Regions from separate parts of the Homo sapiens genome. Here region 2 is linked to region 1. Evidence: fine-mapped expression QTL. A gene starts in region 1. The other region holds a variant in brackets. All regions are shown on one strand. Distances are from middle to middle.

Evidence for each region. PIP is the estimated chance that this variant, and not a neighbour inherited with it, causes the effect. A credible set is the group of variants that fine-mapping cannot tell apart.
Region 2: its variant is the best candidate, but not a certain one, in a credible set for the expression of UGDH in whole blood (TOPMed, PIP 0.63).

Annotation. Positions count from the first base shown.
Region 1 is chr4:39,525,765-39,530,156 of GRCh38, reverse strand. It overlaps UGDH (UDP-glucose 6-dehydrogenase), which reads left to right and starts at 2,718. Exons shown (of 12, transcript NM_003359.4): 1 at 2,718-2,874. UGDH-AS1 (UGDH antisense RNA 1) reads right to left here and starts at 2,318. Exons shown (of 5, transcript NR_047679.1): 1 at 1,819-2,318. RefSeq lists an enhancer at 1,834-1,893 and silencers at 2,274-2,573, 2,824-3,003.
Region 2 is chr4:39,603,435-39,607,826 of GRCh38, reverse strand. SMIM14 (small integral membrane protein 14) reads left to right here. Exons shown (of 5, transcript NM_174921.3): 2 at 2,647-2,756. The coding sequence starts at 2,682. Among named protein-coding and RNA genes, the nearest start is that of SMIM14, 33 kb to the left of the region's middle. The variant C/G (reference allele first, on the strand shown) is at 2,155.

The DNA.
Region 1 (4,392 bases):
ATCAAGACCCCTTGGCATGTTTAAAAATTGAAGACTCAAAGAAGTTTTTTTCATGTGGATTGTAACTATTGGTATTTACCATATTAGAAATGAAAACTGATAAATTATATATAAAAGATTAATTCCTTAAAATTGACAATAAGCCCATTACATGTTAACATAAATATCATATTTTAATGAAAAATTACTATATTTTAAAAACAAAAGATAAGATTGGCATTGTTTTACATTTTTGTAAATCTCTAATATCTGACTTAAAAAACAGCTTAATTCTATTTGCTTTGATAGCACATTATAGTCTCCACAAAACTTCATTGTACACTTCTGAGAGAACAAGAGTGAAAAAAGCAAGTAACACATGAAAACTTTTTGACCTCATGGATCCCAGAAAGAACCTCGGAGATTGTCTACAGTCCCCAGCTCACATTTGGAGAACCTCTGTCCTAAATCCAAAGGTCCATTCTAGCTGGCACTGAAAATTGACTTAATTTCTGAAATCCTATTAACCGTTTTGAAGAGTCTGATTCTACCAAAATACTAAAAAAGAATGTGAGGTGAATACTAAATAGAAAAATGTTGAATTCAAAATGAAGGGACTAAGATAAGTGGTTTTTATTACAAAGCAAACTGTATTAGATAACTTAAATCTATGTATGTTCAAAAAGATGTACTTGTCATATCTAGTGCAATTACTTGTTTACATATCTCTTCTACCCAACCTGTGAGCTTTGCAAGAAGGAAATGAGTCTTTTTTGTTTGGTTATTTTTCTGAGACAGTGTCTCGTTCTGTTCCCCAGGCTGCAGGGCAGTGGTGTGATCTCGGCTCACTGCAACAGGGAGCCTCCTGAGCAGCTGGGATTACAGGTGCCCACCGCCTCACCCGGCTAACTTTTTGTATTTTTAGTGGAGCCGGGGTTTCACCATGTTGGCCAGGCTGGTCTGGAACTCCTGACCTCAGGTGATCCGCCCGCTATGGCCTCCCAAAGTGCTGGGATTACAGGCGTAAACCACCGTGCCTGGCCAAAGGAATTGAGTCTTAATCCCTTTTGCATCTTCAGTCTTTAGGATAACGTCTGACACACAACAGGCATTAAATATTTGTTGGATGAATGAACTGAACTGCATAGAATGCAGAAAGCCTACATATACTGGCCAGGCACAGTGGCTCACACCTGTAATCCCAGCACTTTGGGAGGCCGAGACGGGCGGATCACCTGAGGTCAGGAGTTTGAGACCAGCCTGGTCAACATAGCAAAACCCGGTCTCTATTAAAAATATAAAAATTAGCCGGGCATGGTTGTGGGCGCCTGTAATCCCAGCTACTCGGGAGGCTGAGGCAGGAGAATCGTTTGAATCTGGAAGGAGGAGGTTGAGGTGAGCCGAGATCGCACCACTGCACTCCAGCCTCGGCGACAAGAGGGAGACTCCGTCTCAAAACAACCAACCAACAAGCCTACATATCCTGCCACACGTGCTACAATCCACAGCAAACTGTTTCATCCACATTCAACCACTTTCTTAAAGTCACCATCATGATCCTATCAAGAAAACCGTAATTTATATGGTATTTTAATGTGCCTTTATAAATTACTAATCACTTTCTTCATGATGTATGTTAAAATGGCTTATGTCACCTGATGTAATCCTTAATGAGGGAAATAAAAGGCCATGATTATGCCTGGCTTTTTTTCTTATATGTTAGATTTGAGTGTTAAAATGACCTCGAAGCGGCGAAAGAAAGGAACGGAACTGCCCTCCACATTAAAAATGAGCAGGCTCCATAGGTTAATTTTACTCTTCCTCACGCACGGCACTTACATGTTGCAAACTCTCTGCTCCACAGCACGCACAGACATCCCAAATCCCGGATTGGGCCTGAGGAACATCTCTGCAAAGAGCGCCAGGAGGGCGTGGGGGTCCCGCCTCTCTCGCCAGGGACCAGGGAGTGGACACTCACTGGTCCAGTCATGAGGAACTCAGCATCCTCCTGACGGGAGGCGCCTCTTTCCCAGAAGCGGTGGGTCAGGAGGAATCTGACTAAACCCTGGGTTGCCGGCCCGGAGGGCGCGGTTGACCCCGGGGCCTCGAGGTTGTGGGCGAGGAGTAATCCGCCCGCCGAGACCGACCCGCAGATCCAGGAGACCGAAACCCGAGGGCGGCGCTCCAGGGTGCTGAGGAGACCGGAAAGGCGGCCAGGACCTTCCGGTCGCCTCGGCCCACCACCCACCCAGTGTCCGCGCAGCCCTAAAGCCTGGCAGACGCGGAGCGCACGCGGCCTTTGCCTCGGCCAGGACAGGGCAGCGGGGAGAGGGCTGCTAGACAACAATTCTTGACCCCTCCTCGACCCACGACCGCCAGGTAGGCGCGCAAAGCTCCTACACCTGCGGCGCGCCCCCGTCCCCTGGTCCAGCGGACACGCCACGCACGCAGCCCCGCCCAGCGCCGCTCGCGGTAGGGGCGGAGCCGCTGAGCTGGCCAAAGCGGATTTGCCCAGCTAGGCCAGGGGCGGGGCAGGCCCTCCCAGCCAGGACCAGCCCCAGTCTCCCCGCCCCTGAGCCGTGAAGGAAATAGGGACCTGGCCCTGGGCCTTGTGTAGCGGGAGGGGGAGCTAGGAAGCAGCTGAGGGCAGAATCCAGGAGGGCCTGGCTGCGGGGGAATGAAGCCTCCGCCTTCGCAGGCAAAAGCCTTTAAATACGGGCTCAGGCCCGGGACTCAGAGTGTAACGCGTGGCAGCCTGAGGGAGGGGCGTGCGCCGAGAGGGAGCTCAGATCGAGCGGGGCGCGGGTGGAGAAGCTGCGGCGGCGCGGCCCGTAGGAAGGTGCTGTCCGAACGATCGGGATAGGAGCGGTCCCTGCGCTTGCTGCTGGGAAGTGGGTAAGCGCCGCTCCCAGGCTGGCCCCGCCGCCCGGGCGGGATGCTCCCAGGTCTGGGCGGGATGTGGAGGGAGCGGGGCTGGGGTGTGCGCGCTGCTCCCGGTCGCTCGCTGCGCTGGGTCCCGGGCTTCCCGTCTCACGACCTTCGTCTCTTTGGGGCTTAGGGCGGGAACCGCATTTTGGAACTGCTGTCCTGGGGATGTGGTCGTCTGGGCTTCTTATTCAAGACTCGTGAGTCTTCCAGCCCCTTCTCTTTCTGCCTTTACCCACTTTCCTGACTTGGATGAGATTTCCCTGCCGCCTCCAAAGCCGAACGCCCACCACAGGAAGCGGTTCTCTCGTTGGGGACCTCATTTTGGCCGCAGAGTCGTAGTCTTTTGTTTGTGTTTAAGAGTCTGCTCACCTGAGGGGCTCCTGCTTTTCTCATGCCGCCCCTCTTAAGAAACCAAAGAGAAACGAAGCCAGAAAGCCCTCTTGAGAGCAAAATACTAAGACTGCCGTGATATCTGTCCGGGATGTCCTGGAATCCATTGTTGGCCCCCTACACCACAGAATTGCTCTGTTTGATGTCGGGGAAGGCCTTTCCTGGGTGCCTCGGGAGACCATGTTTGTGTGAGATCTTGAAAAATTATACGTCCTATAAATATATAGGAAGATAACTTAGTAGGGTTAGGAATTCTAGTATAGAGAAAAGAGGGGTTCGCTGGTAGGGATCTATTCATGGGCATACAGAGCAGTAGCTGTCTATCGACAGACCTCAAAGACACAGTGAGCCTTTGAGTTTCTTCAAATCCCTTAAGAAATGGAGAACAGTAGTCTTTCTTCAGGGGGGTTCTGGAAATGAAAGAGCTGACTGTCTGCTCTGAGATGTGCTTATTAGTGGCCAGGATCCAGTTTAAGGTAAGGGGTAGACAACCCTGATTGAAAAGATCTCATTTCTTCTCCCGTTGCTGTACTCCTTTTTCTAACAAAATCTATAACTGGATAAGCATAATCCATCTTCCTTCTTGTTTACTTCCACAGCTTTACATGATAACCCTTAGACATAAAATTAATACCGGCTTTCTTACTGATTAAATATTTTTCTCTGGTCAGGCATCTTTTACTGTTTAATTTCTGGAAATGATTAAAATGTGTGAAGCTGATGTATCCAACTATAATGCCCATCGTTAGCTCCTGGGTACCTATGCAAAATATGCTGTAGAGAGCTGGGGCTAGAAGGATTATATTCCGTTTAGATTGTAGTAGGGCATTTGTTATTTGTTAGTGACCCCTTCTGGGTTGGAATGTTTATTTGAATTTATGAAATTTTACATGAAGAGTAGTTTTGGAACGGTTTGGTTTGTTGTGACTCTCCCAAAATACAGAGGTAAAAACTCATTTCAAAATAACCCATTTAATAAGGAAACACTCCTATGTCTCTGACAGCAGAATAGAGGGCCAGAGGGTACATAAAAGTAGAAATAGAAAATGGGGGCCGGGCGTGGTGGCTCACGCCTGTAATCCCAGCACTTTGGGA
Region 2 (4,392 bases), 78 kb before region 1:
ATAGAAATTCTTTATATGTTGTGAATACTAAACCTTTATCAAACAGATGATTTGCAAATATTCCATTCTGGGAGTTGTCTTTTCACTCTTTCGTTTATCTTTTATAGCATTTATCAGTTTGTATTTATAATTTAAAAAACATTTAGATTAGTATCTGTGTCTACTACTGGAATGTGAACACCATTAGGGTAAGAACTATCAGTTTTTGCTTACTTTAAATTTCTTTTTTATTTTTACAGAGATGAGGTCTCACTATGTTGCTCAGGCTATTCTTGAACTCCTGAGCTCAAGTGATCCTCTTGCCTCAGCCTCCCAAACTACTAGGATTACAGGTGTGAGCCACCATGCTCAGCCTACTTTTAAATTTCTAATAGGCTTAGCATAAGCACTAAATATTTTTGAGTGAATTTATGTTAATCACTCAATTTTTAATTTTAAGTTAATTTATGAATTGTTTTATTGATCTGCCTATTCCACCTTTTAACCAGAATGGTTTTCCATGGCTAATGCTGTATATAAGCATAATTTTACTCGTTATTGAGATATAATTGATAAACAATAAACTATGCACATTTAAATATACAATTTGATAAGTTTTGATGGATGTGTCCACAATTCACATATATTAGACCATTTGAAGTTGTCCCACAGCTCACTAATGGCCTATGTATGTTTTTGTTTATTTTTTTCAGAGATGGGTTCTCACTGTGTTGCTCAGGCTGGCCTTGAACTCTTGGGCTCAAATGGTCCTCCTGCCCCAACCACCCAAGTGGCTGGGACTACTGGTTTATCCACCCCTTTTTCTATTATTTCATTTTTGATAGCTACTGTTATTATGTCTTCAAGTTCAGTAATCTTTTCTTCTGTAATGTCTCCTATGCTGTTAAACCCATCTGGTGTATTTTTCATTTCGGACACTATTGTTTTTATCTCTACCAGTCCAGTTGGATGATTTTACTATCTTTAATGTCTCTCCTTAATATAGTCATTCTTCTAGTTTCTTCTCCCCAACTTAGGGATACCACTGGGCTCTGGTCTGGGTTTTCCCACCACATACTTGGAACTAGAGTCTCCTCGAGGCAGTAAACTGGGCCAGTGATAGGGCTCATCTCATTTGTTTTTCCGTCTCTCAGGTGTCACTATTCTTTGTAGCCTCATGTTCAATGTCTTTTTTTTTTTTTTTTTTTGAGACGGAGTCTTGCTCTGTCGCCAGGCTGGAGTGCAGTGGCGCGATCTTGGCTCACTGCAACATCTGCCTCCCGGATTCAAGCGATTCTCCTGTCTCAGCCTCCTGAGTAGCTGGGACTACAAGCACACGCCACCACGCTTGGCTAATTTTTGTATTTTTAGTAGAGACGGGGTTTCACCATGTTGGCCAGGATGGCCTCTATCTCCTGACCTTGTGATCCACCCACCTCGGCCTCCCAAAGTGCTGGGATTACAGGTGTGAGCCACCACACTCAGCCCTTTTTTTTTTTTTTTAAACATGAACTCACTGTGTTGCCCAGGCTGGAATGCAGTGGCGTGATCATGGCTTATTGCAGCCTTGACTGCCAGGGCTCAAGCAATCCTCCCACCTCAGCCTTCTGAGTAGCTGGGACCACAGGTTTGTGCCACCATGCCCAGCTAATTTTTAAATTATTTGTAGAGGTGAGGTCTCACTAGGTTGCCCAGGCTGGTCTCAAACTCCTGGGCTCAAGTGATCCTCCCGCCTCAGCCTCCCAAAGTGCTGGGATTACAGGAGTAAGCCAGTGCGCCTGGCCTTAATATCTTAAAAACAATTGTTTCTGGCCGGGCACGGTGGCTCACACTTGTAATCCTAGCACTTTGGGAGGCCGAGGTGGGCAGATCACCTGAGGTCAGGAGTTCAAGACCAGCCTGGCCAACATGGCAAAACCCCATCTCTACTAAAAATATGAAAAGTAGCCGGGCGTGGTGCATGCCTGTAATCCCAGCTACTCCGGAAGCTGAGGCAGGAGAATCTCTTGAACCCAGGAGGCGGAGGTTGCAGTGAGCTGAGATCGTATCACTGCACTCCAGCCTGGGCGACAGAGCGAGACTCTGTCTAAAAACAAAACAAAACAACAGCAAAAAACAATTGTTTCATGTATTTTGTCTAATTTTTAAAAAATTGTTTTAGGCAGAACAGTAAAT[C/G]TGGTTGCCAATACTCCATCTTGACCTCTCATTTGTTTCTCTTTATTTTTTGAAATCTACCTAGCTATTTTTTAGCTATGTCATTAATTTCCCCCCATAAACCTTGGTATCATTTTAGATACCTTTTCAGATGTCTTTCTTGGTGAGGGTAAAGGCTGGTTTAAATTATTTGCATACTGGAGCTAATAAAGTCAAATAATTGAGTAATTAAGCAGAGTAGGTTCTAGCATCTTCAGCATCACAGGTGGGGCCAGTTTAGAGCATTGAAGACATTTGTATTTATGGGCTGATGGCAGAAGGGGTAGCCAATCACCTGTATAGATTCATAATTCATATAAGATTAATAATAAATTAATAGATACAAGTCAATAAATACAAACTATACATAGTTTAATACTATTGTGAATGTAATCAATATCAGAATTTTTCATAGCTCAAGAGAAAGAGTAATTCTGAATTGTAGACTTAACAGTATTTTTTCCTTCCTCCTAGATTTAAACAGTCAAGTAAAATCAAGCTGGGTAATCATGGCAGAAGGTGGATTTGATCCCTGTGAATGTGTTTGCTCTCATGAACATGCAATGAGAAGACTGATCAATCTGGTGAGATGCAACAGGACAATCCTATTCTGAACTGATCTGTATCCCTTGTATCCTCTTTTCATGAAAATACTGGTTATTGGAGGGTTTTCATCTGATGGTCACTAAAGAGTATTTCATAATTGAAATTCCACATTTGTTTAAGTTGTAATGATTAAAATGTGACCGGGCACAGTGGCTCACACCTGTAATCCCAGCACTTTGGGAGGCCAAGGTGGGCGGATCACTTGAACTCAGGAGTTCGAGACCAGTTTGGCCAACAAAGCAAAACCCCATCTCTACTAAAAATATAAAAATTTGCCAGGCGTGGTGGCACACACTTTTAATCCCAGCTACTCGGAAGGCTGAGACACGAGAATTGCTTGAACCCAGGAGGCAGAGATTGTTGTGAGCCGAGATCATGCCACTGCACTCTAGCCTGGGCGACAGAACAAGACTCTGTCTCAAAAAAAAAAAAGTTTGCTAGCAATTATTTCATTAGAGATGAAAACAGACTACCGTCTTTATTATTGTTATTATTATTATTATTATTATTTTGAGATGGAGTCTCGCTCTGTTGCACAGGCTGGAGTGTAGTGGTGCTATCTCGGCTCACTACAGCCTCCACCTCCTGAGTTCAAGCGATTCTCCTGCCTCAGCCTCCCGAGTAACTGGGACTACAGGAGTGTGCCACCACGCCTGGCTAATATTTGCATTTTTAGTAGAGACTGGGTTTCACCATGTTGCCCAGGCTGGTCTCAAACTCCTGACCTCAAGTGTTCTGCCCACCTTAGCCCCCCAAAGTGCTGGGAATGCAGGTGTGATCCACCTCCCCAGCCCAGACTACTGTCTTTATGGTAGATTTATGTTGGTGACATTTGCCATCATGGGTAGATAACACATATGTATATTGCCTTTTCTACTTTATATCAATACAAATAAAATTGTTTTTAGCTGTGTGGAGCTTGTTTGCCTGCTAAGCTGCTATTGACAGTTCCTGTTATGATATAGTTCATATCCTACACCAACATATGGCATGACAATACGAATCTCTATGTAAAGCATTTCTTTTTTTTTTTTTTTTGAGACAGTGTCTCACTCTGCCACCCAGGCTGGAATGCGGTGGTGCGATCTCGGCTCACTGCAACCTCCACCTCCTGGGTTCAAGTGATTCTCCTGCCTCAACTTTGCAAGTAGCTGGGATTGCAGGTGCGCACCACCATGCCCAGCTAATTTTTGTATTTTTAGTAGAGACGGGGTTTCACCTTGTTGGTCAGGCTGGTCTCAAACTCCTGACCTCAGGTGATCTGCCAACCTCGGTCCCCGAAAGTGCTGGGATTACAGGCGTGAACCACTGCGCCTGGCCTATGTAAAGCATTTCTGAAAACAAATCAATTATTTGACAGAGGTAGATTTCTGAACAACAAGATTTGAATAGTCTCATTGAGTCGATTGTAGTGAGTCTATAAGCTTAAATACAGGGCTGTTTATATTATACTTTATTATTGTTATTATTATTTTTTATTTATTGTTTTTGAGATGGAGTCTCGCTCTGTCACCCAGGCTGGAGTGCAGTGGCGCGATCTTGGCTCATTGCAAGCTCCGCCTCCCAGGTTCACGCCATTCTCCTGCCTCAGCCTCCCAAGTGGCTGGGACTACA